2 separate regions of the Homo sapiens genome follow, and region 2 is linked to region 1. A link means that fine-mapping ties the variant in region 1 to the expression of a gene that starts in the linked region. Tissue or cell type: whole blood. Region 1 holds a variant in brackets; the other region holds the start of a gene. All regions are shown on one strand. Distances are between the middles of the regions.

Region 1 (8,198 bases):
AAGCCACCCTACCACGTCAGCCTCATGAGTAGCTGGGACCACAGGCACGCACCACCTTGCGTGGCTAGTTTTTTAATTTTTTTGTAGAGGCAGGGTCTTGCTATGTTGCCCAAGCTGGTCTCAAATTCCTGGGCTCAAGAGATCCTCCTGCCTTGGCCTCTGAAAGTGCTGGGATTACAGGTATGAGCCACTGTGCCCAGTGGAAAAGCAAATTCTTTTATTTTGTTTAGCTTGTTAAAAATTGAGATGAAATTCATATGACATCAAGTTAACCATTTTAAAGTAAATAATTTGGCCAGGCATGGTGGCTCACATCTGTAATCCCAGTACTTTGGGAGGCCAAGGTGGGCAGATCACCTGAGATCAGGAGTTCAAGACCAGCCTGGCCAACATGGTGAAACCCCATCTCTACTAAAAATAAAAAAAAATTAGCCAGGTGTGGTGGTGGCCACCTGTAATCCCAGCTACTCGGGAAGCTGAGGCAGGAGAATCATTTGAACCTGGGAGGTGGAGGTTGCAGTGAGCCAAGATTGCACCACTGCACTCCACCCTGGGCAACAGAGCAAGACTACATTTCAAAAATAAATAAAGTGAATAATTCAGCCTGGGCGTGGTGCTCATATCTGTAATCCCAGCACTTTGGGAAGCCGAGGCAGGCGGGTCACCTGAGGTCAGGAGTTATAACAGACCAGCCTGGCCAACATGGCAAAAGCCTGCCTACTAAAAATAAAAAAAAAAAAAAAAACTAGCTGGGCGTGGTAGTGAGCACCTGTAATCCCAGCTACTCGGGAGGCTGAGGCAGGAGAATCACTTGAACCCAGGAGGTGGAGGTTGCAGTGAGGAGAGATTGCACCACTGCAATCCAGCCTGGGCAACAGAGTGAGACTCCATCAGAATAAATAAAAATTTTAAAAATAAAGTGAATAATTCAGTAATATTAGTACATTCACCATGATGTACAACCACCACCTCTACCTTGTTTCAAAACTTCTTCATCACCGTAAAAGGAAACCCCGTGTCCACTAAGCAATTACTCCCTATTCCTCCACTCTCCTCAGCCCCTGGAAACCACCAGTGTGCTTTGTGTCTCTATGGATTCATTTATACCGGGCGTTTCATACAAATAGACTCAGCCAGGCATGGTGAATCCTGCCTGTAAGCCTAGCACTTTGGGAAGCAGAGGCTGGAGGATCATTTGAGGGCAGAAGTTTGAGACTAGACTGGGCAACAGAGCAAGACCCTGTCCCTGCAAAAACAAGGGGGGGATGTGATACAGTATGTGACCTTTCGTTTCTGGCTTATTTGACTTAGTAAAATGTTACCCAGATTCATTCATGTTGTAACATGTATCAGTACTTCATTTCTTATGGTTGAATAATATTCTGTTGTGTATATATACCACAATGTTTTAATCCATTCATCAGTTGATGGAAATTTGGGATATATCTGTCTTTTGACTCTTGTTTATAGCACTGCTATGAACATTCATGTACAAGTATTTGTTCTAGTATATGTTTTCAGTTCTTTTGAGTATATACTTAGGAGTAGAATGCTAATTCCTTTTTTTTCTTTTTTTTTTTTTTTTTTGGGAAACAGAGTCTCGGCCGGGCATTGTGGCTCACACCTGTAATCCCAGCACTTTGGGAGGCCAAGGTGGGTGAATCATGTGAGGTCAGGAGTTCGAGACCAGCCTGGCCAACATGGTGAAACCTCGCCTCTACTAAAAATACAAAAATTAGCCAGGCGTGGTTGTGCGTGCCTATAATCTCAGCTACTGGGGAGGCTGAGGCAGGAGAATTGCTTAAAACCCGGAAGCAGAGGCTGCAGTGAACCAAGATTGTGCCACTGCATTCCAGCCTGGATGACAGAACAAGATTCCATCTCAAAAAAAAAAAAAAAAAAAAAAGAAACAGAATCTTGCTCTGTTGCCCAGGCTGGAGCACAGTGGAGTAATCTCAGCTCACTGCAACCTCTGCCTCCCAGGTTCAAGTGATTCTCCTGCCTCAGCCTCCCAAGTAGCTGGGAATACAGGCATGTGCCACTGTGCCTGGCTAATTTTTATATTTTTAGTAGAGATGGTGTTTCACCATGGTGGCCAGGCTGGTCTTGAACCCCTGACCTCAAGTGATCCATCTGCCTCAGCCTCCCAAGTTCTGGGATTACAGGCGTGAGCCACTGTGCGCGGCCAGGAACTACCTTTTTGTATTCTAAGAGTTAGCTCCAAACTAGTCAATGCTGAAGGCCTTGACATTACAATTCTCATTTGTTTCTAAAATACATAAAGACGCTAAAACAATTGGCTTGATGGAAAAAAAAAGTTCAACTCAAGATAAACACTGCATGATCTCATTATGTGTGGTATCCAAAGAAGTCTAACTCATAGAAACGAGAGTAGGTTGGTTGACAAGAGCCATAGGGAGGGAGAAACAGGAGAATTTTGGTCAAAGGAAAGTTTCAATTATAAGATAAATAAATTCTGGAGATCAAAAATATAGCATATGGTAACCGTAACTAATAATAATGTAGGCCGGGCGCGGTGGCTCACGTCTGTAATCCCAGCACTTTGGATGGCCAAGGCGGGTGGATCACGAGGTCAGGAGATCAAGACCATCCTGGCTAACATGGTGAAACCCCATTTCTACTAAAAATACAAAAAATTAACCAGGCATGGTGGCGGGCGCCTGTAGTCCCATCTACTCGGGAGGCTGAGGCGGGAGAATGGCGTGAACCAGGGAGGTGGAGCTTGCAGTGAGCCAAGATTGTGCCACTGCACTCCAGCCTGGGCGACAAAGCAAGACTCCGTCTCAAAAAAATAATAATAAATAATAATAACAATGTATTGTATACTTGACATTTTCTAACACAGTAGAACTTAGTGTTCTTGCCACCAAAAAACGGTAATTACATGAGGTGGTGGATATGTTAATTAGCCTTTCGGTGGTGATCTTTTTTTGACAACGAGTTTCGCTCTTGTTCTTGTTGCCCAGGCTGGAGTGCAGTGGTGCCATCTGGGCTCACTGCAACCTCCACCTCCCGGGTTCAAGCGATTCTCCTGCTTCAGCCTCCCAAGTAGCTGGGATTACAGGCATGGGCCACCACGCCTGGCTGAATTTGTATTTTCAGTAGAGAC[G/A]GGGTTTCTCCATGTTGGTCAGGCTGGTCTCGAATTCCCAACCTCAGGTGATCCGCCCGCATCGGCCTCCCAAAGTGCTGGGATTACAGGCATAAGCCACCACGCCTGGCTGTGGTGATCATTTTACAGTGTATAAATATATCAAAACATATTGTACACCGTGAATATATACAGTTTTTATTTGTCAATTACACCTCAATAAAGATGGGAGGGAAAGAAAAAGAAAAATGTTTAACTCTACCAAAAATAAAAGAAATGCAAATCAAAATAAGAAAAATGCCATTATTTAGACTCAGAAAGCCAGGCATGGTGGTTCATACCTGTAATCCCAACACTTTGGGAGGCTGAGGCAGGAGGGTTGCTTGAGGTCAGGAGTTCAAGACCAGCCTGGGAAACATAGCAAAACTCTACCTCTACAAAAAAAAATTTTTGGCCGGGCGTGGTGGCTCATGCCTGTAATCCCAACATGCTGTGAGGCTGAGGCAGGTGGGTCACTTGACGTCAGGAGTTAGAGACCAGCCTGGCCAACATGGTGAAACCCCATTTCTACTAAAATACAAAAATTAGCCGGGCATGGTGGCAGGCACCTGTAATCTCAGCTACTGGGGAGGCTGAGGCGTGAGAATCACTTGAACCGAGGAGGTGGAGGTTGCAGTGAGCAGAGATCGCACCACTGCACTCAAGCCTGGGTGAAAGAGTGATACTCTGTCTCAAAAAAAATTTTTTTTTTTTAATTAGCCAGATGTGGTGGCACGTACCTATAGTCCCAGCTACTCAGGAGGCTGAGGTGGGAGGATTGCTTGAAACCAGGAGTTTGAGGCTGCAGTGAGCTGTAATTGTGCCACTGCACTGCAGCCTGGGTGACAGAGTAAGATTCTATTTCTTTTTTTTTGGGGGGGTGGGGACGGAGTCTCGCTTTGTCTCCCAGGCTGGAGTGCAGTGGCACTGTCTCTGCTCATTGCAACCTCCACCTCCTGGGTTCAAGCAATTCTTTTGCCTCAGCCTCCAGAATATTAGAGGGATTAGGGTTGGGATTACAGTTGCCTGCCACCATGCCCGGCTAATTTTTGTATTTTTAGTAGAGATGGGGTTTCACCATGTTGGCTATATGCTGGTCTTGAATTCCTGACCTCAGGTGATCTGCCTACCTCGGCCTTTCAAAGTGCTGGGATTATAGACATGAGCCACCATGCCCAGCTTGATCCTATTTCAAATAAATAAATAAAATAGACACAGTATTGGCCAAGATTTGAGTAAATTAATAAGCGCTGATCAGAGTGCAGAGAATTGGGCTGTTTCTATACAAAACCAATAGAAATGCAAATTGATACACCCATTCTCTGGAAAAATTTGAATGTAGCCTGGACAACATAGCAAGACCCCCATGTCTTTAAAATAATGAGAACATCTGTGTTCTAACGCATAGTGCTTAGCTTTTTTTTTTTTCTTTTTTTTGAGAAGGAGTCGAGCTCTGTTGCCCAGGCTGGAGTGCAGTGGCACAATCTCGGCTCACTGCAACCTCTGCCTCCTAGGCTCAAACAATCCTCCTGCCTCAGCCTCCCGAGTAGCTGGGACTACAGCTGTGTGCCATGCCCGGCCTCTGGCCAGCATACTTTTTAAAAATTGGAAGACTCGGATGGGCACGGTGGCTCACGCCTGTAATCCCAGCACTTTGGGAGGCCAAGGTGGGCGGATCACGAGGTCAGAAGATGGAGACCATCCTGGCTAACACGGTGAAACCCCGTCTCTACTGAAAATACAAAAAATTAGCTGGGCATGGAGGCGTGCGCCTGTAGTCCCAGCTGCTGGGGAGACTGAGGCAGGAGAATGGCGTGAACCGGGGAGGTGGAGCTTGCAGTGAACTGAGATGCCGCCACTGCACTCCAGCCTGGGCGACAGAGCAAGACTCTTTCTCAAAAAAAAAAAAAATTAGAAGACTCAGTAAATGTTAAGTCTGGCTGTTGTAATTGTCAGATGTACATCAAAATGCTGGTACTGCTTATCTTTAAGTAGTGGAATCGTAATTTTAATATTCTTTTGTACACTTTTCTATATTTCTACAATAATGCATTTTCCTTTTGTAATCAGAAAAAAAAAAGAAAATTAAGATTTCGGTCCTCATAGCCGTCTTTATAGTCAACTTTCTAAGCAAGATAACTTTGCTTAAGGTAATTCTCACTGCTGTGGGACAGTGATTCCATATTGGATAAAGGCTTCGATATTTTTGGAAAGGCATCCCAATCTTTGCTACCCTCTCTTCTAATAAGAGTCGAGGTGAACACTATCAAACAACTGAAAAATACTTCTATCAGGTCAGCGCTCCAGGATATTTCTATTCTTAGACATAATAAGATTTGGAGAGCAGTGCTTTAGAGGCTGGGCAAGAATTTTAGAAAGCTAAGGATTACAACAGATCTGGACATTTCTCCCCCATCCCCATTAACAGTCATGAACTGAAAATTTCTATTAGGGGTCATTCATTTACAGGAAAAACAACGAAAACCAAGAAACTTGGATTATGTCATTCATCTACTAACATTTTTTATGGCACCCCTGTGCCTATTCTAGTACCTACACATTACTCAGCCAGGCATCTGAGGTCATTTTAAAGATAATTTTCAGGCAGGTGTGGTAGCTTAGGCCTGTAATCTCAGCATTTTGGGAGGCTGAGGTGGGAGAATTGCTTCAGCCCAGGAGTTCCAGACCATTTTGGGCAAGAGGGCAAAACTCCATCTCGACAAAAATTACAAAAATTAGCCAGGTGTGGTGGCGCCCACTGGTGGTTCCAGCTAATCAGGAGGCTGAGGCAGGAGGATCGCTTGAGCCCAGGGGTGGAGGCTGTAGTGAGCCGTGACTGTGCCACTGCACTCCAGCCTAGGCAACAGAGCAAGACCCTGTCTCAAACAAAAAAAAAAGTGATATTCAGAGCGACTTGAAACATGGATCTGAATCTAGGTACTGGAGTTTCCACTTTCAGCTTCGGGACTATCAGTTCACACCCAGCTATAAACATATCGAGCAAATTCCTAGAACTCTTCTATGAGTGTCATATCAATATACACACCTGCATATGTGTACTGCTGAGCCACCGCGCCTGGCCAAAAGTATTTTTTTCAAGCGTCTAATGGTGTAATAATTAGCCATTCAAATTAAAGGGGCCATTCTAAAGAATTAGCTTCAGCAGGTGGTGTGGCTCAGGCCTGTAATCCCAGCACTTCGGGAGGCCAAGGCAGGTGGATCACCTGAGGTCAAGAGTTCGAGACCAGCCAGGCCAACATGGAGAAACCCCGTCTCTACTAAAAAAACCATGAAAATTAGCCGAGTGTGGTGGTGTGCACCTGTAGTCCCAGCTACTCAGGAGGCTGAGGCAGGAGAATTGCTTGAACCTGGGAGGTGGAGGTTGCAGTGAGCTGAGATCTTGTCATTGCACTCCAGCCTGGACAACAAGAGCGAAACTCTGTCTCAAAAAAAAAAAAAAAAAAAAGTTGAAGTAGGGGAGATAAGAATTAAATAGAATTGAATCAGTTGAAACAAAAAAAAATTCAATACAAGATGAAAAGAGCTGTTTTGGAAATCTTGGCAGCAGTGCTGAAAAGAAAAGGCTATTTTATTAACCTTTTAGCAAAGACATAGTCAGATGTGTGTTCAAGAATACCATTTGAAATTATAGTCTTACAAAATTACTACAGGCAGCCAGGAATGGTGGGTCATGCTTGTAATCCCACCACTTTGGGAGGGCGAGGCAGGAGGATTGCTTGAGGCCAGGAGTCTGAGACCAGTCTGGGTAACATAGTGAGATCTTGTCTCTACAAAAAAAAAAAAAAAAAAAACGGGCCAGGCATGGTGTCTGTAGTCCCAGCTATTCAGGAGGCTGAGGGGGGAAGATCACTTGAGCCAGGAAGGTCAATGCTGCAGTAAGCCATGATCTTGCCACTGCACTCTAGCTTGGGCAATGGAGCAAGAGCCTGTCTCAAAAAGAAAAAAAAAAAGTACTGCTACAAGTATTGTGACTCTAGAAGGTGTAAGGGTTTCAGAATGAGGATGGACAAAGGTTGACATTTTTGGGAACAATTATTAGGCACATGTATCTCTTTTTTTTTTTTTTTTTTGAGATGGGGTCTCACTCTGTTGCCCAGGCTGCAGTGCAAATGGTGCAATCTCGGCTCTTCGCAACCTCTGTCTCCCGGGTTCAAGCAATTCTCTTGCCTCAGCCTCCTGAGTAGCTGGGATTACAGGCGCACGCCACCATGCCTGGCTAATTTTTGTATTTTTACTAGAAATGGGGTTTCACCATGTTGGTCAGGCTGGTCTCTAACTCCTGACCTTGTGATCCACCCACCTCGGCCTCCCAAAGTGCTGGGATAACAGGCATGAGCCCCCCGTGCCCAGCCTAGGCACATGTATATTCTTACATGATTGTAAATGAAGGTGGTGATGGATAAGAGTACTAATCTTTTTATCCTGCATAGTCTGAAATTGGAATTTTCAAGGCAACTCTTCTTATCACAACCATCTGAATGTCTCCTTCCCTGAATGTCTACTTTATTCATTTATCAGTTGATAATGTTCGTATTTCATTGCGTCTGTCTAATTTGGCTATAAATGTGCAAGAGCGTCAGCCTGTCTGCCTTGGATTGTAAACTGTTAGAGGAGAGAGGCAAGGTTTAGCTAATTCTCTGTGTGAATCATTTAGCATGGCATAGCACTACACACAATCAAGGTTTTAATAAATGTGTTGATTATGATCTTTGAAAAAAGGCTTAGTCCCATTTATCGTCTTCTCGACCTTGTCAGCACTTCTCAAGAGGGTGGGGAGAGTTGACTTAATCTACATTTTTTTTTTTTTGAGACAGAATCCCACTCTGTCATCCAGGCTGGAGTGCAGTGGTGTGATCTCGGCTCACTGCAACCTCTGCCTCCCCAGGTTCAAGCAATTCTTGTGCCTCAGCCTCCCAAGTAGTTGGGATTACAGGTATGCGCCACCATGCCCGGCTAATTTTTGTATTTTTAGTAGAGACAGGGTTTCACCATGTTGAACAGGCTGGTCTCAAACTCCACACCTGAAGTG
Region 2 (8,154 bases), 29 kb before region 1:
GGTGGCTCATGCCTGTAATGCCAGCACTTTGGGAAGCTGAGGCAGGTGGATCCCTTGAGCCCAGGAGTTCAAGACTAGCCTGAGCAACATAGGGAGACTACATCTCTACCAAAATTTAAAAATTAGCCAGGCATGGTGGCAGGTGCCTGTAGTCCTAGCTACTTAGAAGACTGAGGTAGGAGGACAGCTTGAGCCTGGGAGGTGGAGGCTATGGTAAGCTAGGATCGCACCACGGCACTCCAGCCCAGGTGACTGAGGGAGTGAGATCCCACCACTCTAAAAAAATTAAAAAAAAAATAAATTTAAAAATAAAAAATTAAATAAAATAACTATATAGTAGTTAGCCAGGTTAAAAACCAGAAAGAATTCCAAACAGCAAAAAACAACATGAGCAGGAAGGTGAGAGTTAAGAGACCAGAATCACTGTTTCTATTTTTTTTTTTTTTTTGGAGACGGATGCCCAGGCTGGAGTGCAGTGATGTGATCTCAGCTCACTGCAACCTCCACCTCCTGGGTTCAAATGATTTCCTGCCTCAGCCTCCCGAGTAGCTGGGACTACAGGCGCACATCACAATGCCCGGCTAATTTTTTTTTGTATTTTTAGTAGAGATGGGGTTTCACTGTGTTGGCCAGGCTGGTCTCGAACTCCTGACCTCAAGTGATCCACCCACCTCAGCCTCCCAAAGTGCCGGGGTTACAGGTGTGATCCCACCCGGCCTTTTATTTACCAAAATTTTAGTATTATAACTTTAATAATGGAGGGAAATGCATTTATAGTAATAGCAGACGTGGCTAGCCCTGGGAGCCACAAGTTATAAAGACATCCCTTTTATTTAACTGGGTAGGTCTCTTGACCATGGTGTCCTCAGTTCTCCCCTCTTCCCATGCCCCTCACCCACAAATACAAGTGATAAATTTTTTAAAAAAGCCTTTATAAACTATACTAAGGAATATAAATGCAACTCTAGACACTAATTTTATTAGGTTTATCTTTTAAGATCCCATAATATAGAGGCCCAGGGACCCAGATCTGTTTCTGCCATCACTGTTACTCAACAGACAATGCTTATCCATCAAGGCACAGCTTCACACTTTCTGTAAGAAATCCTCGGGCCGGGCGCGGTGGCTCATGCCTGTAATCCCAGCACTTTGGGAGGCCGAGGCGGACAGATCACGAGGTCTGGAGATCGAGACCATCCCGGCTAACACGGTGAAACCCCGTCTCTACTAAAAATACAAAAAATTAGCCGGGCGTGGTGGCGGGAGCCTATAGTCCCAGCTACTCCGGAGGCTGAGGCAGGAGAATGGCGTGAACCCGGGAGGCGGAGCCTGCAGTGAGCCGTGATCGTGCCACTGCACTCTGGCCTGAGCGACGGAGCGAGACTCCGTCTCAAAAAAAAAAAAAAAATCCTCTCCATGAGTGCACTCATCCACCTCTATCGCATTTCATTCATTTTACAAAAAACTACTCAGGCATTCTAGGAGGCTTTGGGGATGTACCAGTAAACAAAAACAGGACTAAGTACTGAGCTGGTGGAGGTTACCGTCTAATGGGAGAGAAGGCCATCACTCACGTAACCATGAATATAAATGGAAAAACCACAACTGATATAGGGGAAGGTATATGCCATATGTGAACACACTAAAATGAAAATTCTAGTAATATTGAGCATTTACTACATGCTAGTAACAGTTTCTACTATTGTTCCCATTTTACAGAGAGAAAACTGAGACCCAAATGAATTAAGGAACTTAATTATCTGAGCTAAACCTGTGTCTGCAAAATGAAATAACACATGACGGCCGGGCGCAGTGGCTCACTCCTGTAATCCCAATACTCTGGGAGACCAGACGGGAGGATTGCTTGAGTCCAGGAGTTCCCGGCCAGCCTGGGTAACATGGCAAAATCCCGTCTCTACAAAAAATGCAAAAAAATTAGCTGGGCGTAGTGACCCGCGCCTGTACTCCCAGCTACTTGGGAGGCTGAGGTGGGAGGATCACCTGAGCCTGAGAGGTCGAGGCTGCAGTGAGCCGCGATCACACTACTGCACTCCAGCCTGGGCGACAAAGCGAGACCCTGTCTCAAAAAAATAATAATAATTTAAAACAAATTTTAAGTAAAGTGCTTAGCACACAGTTAAGTATTCAATCAGTGCTCGTCCTTGGCTTTATGCCTTTTTTTTTTTTGAAACGGAGTCTTGCACTGTCGCCCAAGCTGGAGTGCAGTGGCGCGATCTCGGCTCACTGCAACCTCCGCTTCCCAGGTTCTAGCGATTCTCCTGCCTCAGCCTCCCGAGTAGCTGAAATTACAGGTGCCCGCCACCACGTCCAGCTAATTTTTTGTGTTTTTAGTAGAGACGGGGTTTCACTACGTTGGTCAGGCTGGTCTCGAACTCCTGACCTCGTGATCCACCCGCCTTACCCTCCCAAAGTGCGGAGATTATAGGCGTGAGCCACTGCGCCCGGCCCGGTTTTATGGCATTTTTACTGTTTATTACGGTCCTCTAGGATAGGGAGCCTGTATGACTTATCCCTGTGTCTCCAACGCTCTATTGTATAGCCCCATTTTAAAGAAGATACAGGATCTGAGACTCTAACTCTCAGCTAATAAATACTGGAGCCAGACATGAACTTGCAAAAAAAAAAAATGCATGTAAAGCGCCTGGCCCACCGTAAACGCTCAGTACGTGTTAGCTACCGGTAGTAGCTATCTTTATTTCTTCACGTTCCTCCAGGCAGGGAGAGTATCTGATGGACACGAGTGTCCCCAAGCCCAGGGTTCCGCACAGAGCAGATGCTCAGTAAAAGTTTGCTGCACGAGCAGGAGCCAGCGGGCGCCTCTCACCTGCAGCAGGGGCAGGAGCAGCTGGTTGAGCCTCCGCCGCTCCATGAGGCTGACGGCGCCCTCGCCTGTGCGGCTCATCTCGTTCAGCAGCACCAGCACCGCGATCTTGTACGGCGTCACCCAGTCCTTGATGCCGAACACATTGGCGTGCACAACCCCATTGGTCATCATGGGATTGAAGTAGAGGCTCTCGTGGACGCTGGCCATGGCGGCCCGAGACTAAGTCTCGGGCCCGCGGCGCGCTGCCGCCAGTTGTCACCACAAGGCACAACACTACCGGGTCTACATCTCCGCCCGCCCTCACAATATCCCAGGAAACAGACATCCGCGTGCTCGCGGCATTTGTTAACCAATCAGAGCAGTCTGTCAGAGCACATGGGAGAGCGACAGCCAGTCAGAATGTACAAGAGTGCGGGGAGGGGTGCACCAAAAGACTGACTCCCTACAGAAACTTTTGCCGAGTGGGAGCAGGTTCCCAGGCTACGTGGACAGGGACCGGATGGGAGGGGAAGTCGATGCTTGGGGTCGGGGCTGAAGGGACTGAGGAGCTCCCAAAGTGGTTTTTTTGTTGTTGGTTGTTGTTGTTGGTGGTGGTGGTGGTGGTTGTCGTTGTTGTTGTTTGAGACGATATCTCGCTATGTTACCAAGACTGGAGGGCAGTGGTTATTCGTAGACGCCCTCAAAGAGCACTGCACCCTCCCAAATCCTGGGCTCGAGCGATCCTCCCGCCTTCCCGAGAAGCTGGGACTACAGGCAGCGCGCCTGGCTTGTTCATGTAATTTGAAAATAGTTCAAATAGAATGTTTAAATGATTGTGTTTAAAAGTACCGAAATTAAATTTGCACCCTTAAAGTATGTATTTATTATGTTACTTTTAAACTCAAATGTTTAGGAGTTTAACTCTGTCTTTTTAAAGATAGGAACATGAGATTTTTCTTCAGCGTTTCACAAATGCCATTTGCAGACAGCCAGATCAGGTTGCCAGTGGTCGTGTATCCTTACGTGAAATAGAACATTAGCAACATCACCTCCATGTGCTGAGTCAGTTTCCTACCTAATAAACTACAAAATCTATACTCTGCATTTCAAAGCCCTCCAAAAGCAATCCCCAGCCAACATTTTGAACCTGATTTTTCACAATTCCCCTTCCGTTCATCTGTACCTCTCCCAAGACACTTAGTTCTCTATACCCTGAATTATTATTAATGATCTGGTATCCCTATTAGTCTTTATGTCCCTTGAAAGAAAAACCACATACCATTCAACTTTGGCTATCCACATGCACACACTGTGCCTTGTGCCTTTTGTTTTGTTTTGTTTTGTTTTGAGACGGAGTCTCCTCTGTCGCCCAGGCTGGAGTGCAGTGGCGCGATCTCTGCTCACTGCAAGCTCTACCTCCCTGGTTCACGCCATTCTCCTGCTTCAGCCTACCGAGTAGCTGGGACTACAGGCATCGGCCACCACGCCCGGCTAATTTTTTGTATTTTTAGTAGAGACGGGGTGTCACCGTGTTAGCCAGGATGGTCTCAATCTCCTGACCTCGTGATCCTCCCGCCTCGGCCTCCCAAAGTGCTGGGATTACAGGCGTGAGCCACCGCGCCCGGCCTGCCTTGTGCCCATTTTTATGTTTGTTTAAATTATACTTTCTCTCTCTCTCATTCTGCTACCGAGGCTGGACTGCAGTGGCACGCTCACGGCTCACTGCAACCTCAGCCTCCAGTTAAAGTAGGTAATTAGACATGAGCAGGGCAGGAGACCCCCTCGCCCTCAGGAATGCCAGGCTCAAGCAATCCTCCCACCTCAGCCTCACGAGTAGTTGAGACTACAGGCTTGTGCCACCATGCATGGCTAATTTTTTTTTTTTTTTTTTCCCGATACGGAGTCTTGCTCTGTCGCCCAGTCTGGAGTACAGTCGCTCGATTTCGGCTCACTACAATCTCTACCTCCCGGGTTCAAGCAATTCTCCTGCCTCAGCCTCCCGAGTAGCTGGAACTACAGGCACGCACCACCACGCCCGGCTAATTTTTGTATTGTTTGTAGAGATGGGGTTTCACCATGTTGGCCCGGCTGGTCTTGAACTGGTTGAACTCCTGACCTCAGGTGACCCGCCCATCTCCGCCTCCAAAAGTGCTGGGATTACAGGCCTGAGCCACTGTGCCTGGATGCATGGCTAATTTTTTTATTTTTTGTAGACACGAGGTCTTGCGATGTTGTCCAGGCTGGTCTCGAACTCCTGGACTCAAGTGATCCTCCTGCCTCAGCCTCCCAAATTGCTACGATTAAAGGCATGGGCCACTGCATGCAGCCTCATGCCTGGTTTTTGTTTTCTCAATCGCTATTTGTTTAATGAATAATGAATGAATATGCATTATTAGTTCACAAAAACAAAAAAGAAGGCAGATATGTATAAGCTAAATGATGCTATCAAAAAAGAAGACATTGATATCTTGTAATACAAGCTTTCCTATCTTGAGAACTCTGTATGTTTTAGTTACCATACATAATTATTATATAACTATCTTTTATTTGTGAAAGGAGAAGCTGGCTTTTGCCAGGAATTTAATACTCACTTAACCTCTTTCTTTGCCTCGGTTTATTTTTATGCCTCACTCTATTAATGAAAAAGCATACTTACAATCTCCCAGCTCTTTAGGATATTTTTGCATATGTGTATACCATAAATAAGGTTTGACAAAGGGTCTGTGTGGAATAAACTAGTATTCAACCTTAAAATCCTGAGTAGGAACACTTAATGAATGGAAAGAGGAAAGTAATTTTACAAAATCCTAAATAACAATTTTACTGTAAATTGGTAAGACTTTCAAGCCATTGATTCATTTATTCAGTAACACTGTGCTAAGCTCCTGCTATATTTAAGGCACTGTTCTAGGTGCTGGGGACCAAAAGGGATGAATTTCTAAGCCAGAAGTTGCAAACTGAAGTTGCAATCTAAACTAAATGCGGCTCATTAGATATATTTTATTTGCTTTGCATGGTGTTTGCCAACACTTAAAAATTAGGATATTTCTGCCAACAAAGAACTACATTTCCAGCTTCACTTGAAAAATTTGAAAATTTGGTAACATGATTTATTCCTAGATGGTAACAACTGACTGGATATGCACAGCATAAGCTGCCTTTGGCCAGGTGCAATGGCTCATGCCTGTAATCCCAACATTTTGGGAGGCCAAGGCAGGCAGATCACTTGAGGTCAGGAGCTCGAGACCAGCCTGGGCAACATGGTGAAACCCTGTCTCTATTAAAAATATAAAAATTAGCCAGGCATGGTGGGGGGTGCCTGTAATCCCAGCTACTCGGGGGGCTGAGGCAGGAGGATCGGTTGAACCCAGGAGGCAGAGGTTGTAGTGAGCCGAGGTCATGCCACTGCACTCCAGCCTGGGCAACAGAGCAAAAACTCCATCTCAAAAATAAATAAATAAATAGGCTGGAGGTGGCGGCTCATGCCTATAATCCCAGCACCTTGGGAGGCAGAGGTGGGTGGATCACTTTGAGGCCAGGAGTTTGACACATGCCTGGCCAACATGGTGAAACCCTGTCTCTACTAAAAATACAAAAATTAGCCAGGTGTGCTGGGATGCACCTGTAATCCCAGCTACTTGGGAGGCTGAGGCCGGAGGATACCTTGAGCCCAGGAGTTCAAGGCTGCAGTGACCTATGATTACCACTGCACTCTAGCCTGGACGACAGAGTGAGACTCTGTCTCATAAATAAATAAATAAGCCACCTTTATTTAGGGCATGCCGTTTCCAACTCACTACAATCCTCATCAATCGTTATTGGGTTTTTTGTTTTGTTCTGTTTTGTTTTTTGGAGCCAGGGTCTCACTCTGTGGCCCAGGCTGGAGTGCGGTGGCATGATCACAGCTTACTGTAGCCTCCACCTCCTGTGCTCAAGCGATCCTCCCACCTCAGCCTCCCGAATAGCTGGGACCACAGGAATGCACCACCACATGTGGCTAATTTTTAATTTTTTTGTAGAGATAGAGTCTCACTGTGTTGCTCAGGCTGGTCTGTAAGTCCTGGGCTCACAAAATCCTCCCACCTCAGTCTCCCAAGATGCTGGGATTACAGGTGTCAGCCATCACACCCGGCCTAGACTTTTCTATATGTATATATCTGATTTTAAGAATGTTGCTAGGCCAGGCGCCATGGTTCACGCCTGTAATCACAGCACTTTGGGAGGCTGAGTCAGGTGGATCACCTGAGGTCAGGAGTTCAAGACCATCCTGACCAACATGGTGAAACCTTTTCTACTAAAAATAAAAAATTAGCCGGCCATGGTGGCGCATGCCTGTAATCCCAGCTATTTGGGAGGCTGAGGCAGGAGAATCGTTTGAACCCAGTAGGCAGAGGATACAGTGAACCAAGATCATTCCATTGCACTCCAGCCTAGGCAACAAGAGTGAAACTCCTTCTCAAAAAAAAAAAAAAAAAAAGAACATGGCTAAATATCAAAACCCTGAAAACATTTGAACTCTTTTGGACTTACTCCATCATCTTAGAGATCATGTGACCATTTTTGTAGCACTTTGTTCAAGCTTCATTTATTATGTGTATGATTTTATATCAATGACTTACTTAAGTAACTGCCTCCTCTGGTGGGCTGTCATAGGCAGGGAGCAGGTTTGCTTTTTTAAAAAAATCTTTGCATCCTTAGTTTCTGACACATTTAGTATATGCTCAGTTATTGTCAATATGCCTTTGAGTCAACTGTGCTGCAAATCCTTACATTCACTCAACAAATATTTTTGAGTACGTACTATATGCCAGACATTGTGCTAAGTCCATGCGAGTACAGCAGTGAATATACAAACTAGGTGTTTGACCTCGTGGAGGAAAACAATTGTCATAAGAAACTACCCAAGGCTGGGCACAGTGGCTTATGCCTGTAGTCCCAGCACTTGGGAGGCCGAGGGTGGGAGGATTGCTTGAGCCCAGGAGTTTAAGACCAGCCTGGACAACATGATAAGACCCTGTGTCTACAAGAAATTAAAAAAATAAATAAATAGCCAGGCATGGTGGTGTGTGCTTGTATTCCCAGTTACTAGGAGGCTGAGGTGGGAGAATCACTTGAGTCCAGGAGGTCAAGGCTGCAGTGAGCTGTGAGCATGCCACTATACTCCAGCCTGGGTGACAGTGAGACATTGTATCAAAATGAAAGAAAGGGAGAGAGAGAGAGAAAGAGAGAGAAGGAGGGAAGGAAGGGAGGGAAGGAAGGAGGGAAAAGAAAGAAAGAAAGAAAGAAAGAGAGAGAAAGAGAGAAGAAAGAGAAAAAAAGAGAAAGAGAAA

Evidence for each region. PIP is the estimated chance that this variant, and not a neighbour inherited with it, causes the effect.
Region 2: it holds the start of ANAPC5, and the variant in region 1 is fine-mapped to the expression of ANAPC5 in whole blood (TOPMed, PIP 0.99).

The regions. Positions count from the first base shown.
Region 1 is chr12:121,377,796-121,385,993 of GRCh38, forward strand. The region is part of intron 1 of LOC124903037 (a long non-coding RNA gene); the gene reads left to right. Among named protein-coding and RNA genes, the nearest start is that of RNF34, 18 kb to the right of the region's middle. The variant G/A (reference allele first, on the strand shown) is at 3,131.
Region 2 is chr12:121,349,289-121,357,442 of GRCh38, forward strand. ANAPC5 (anaphase promoting complex subunit 5) reads right to left here and starts at 3,123. Exons shown (of 17, transcript NM_016237.5): 1 at 2,846-3,123. The coding sequence starts at 3,052. RefSeq lists enhancers at 2,198-2,873, 2,866-3,125, 3,550-4,225, 4,226-4,899.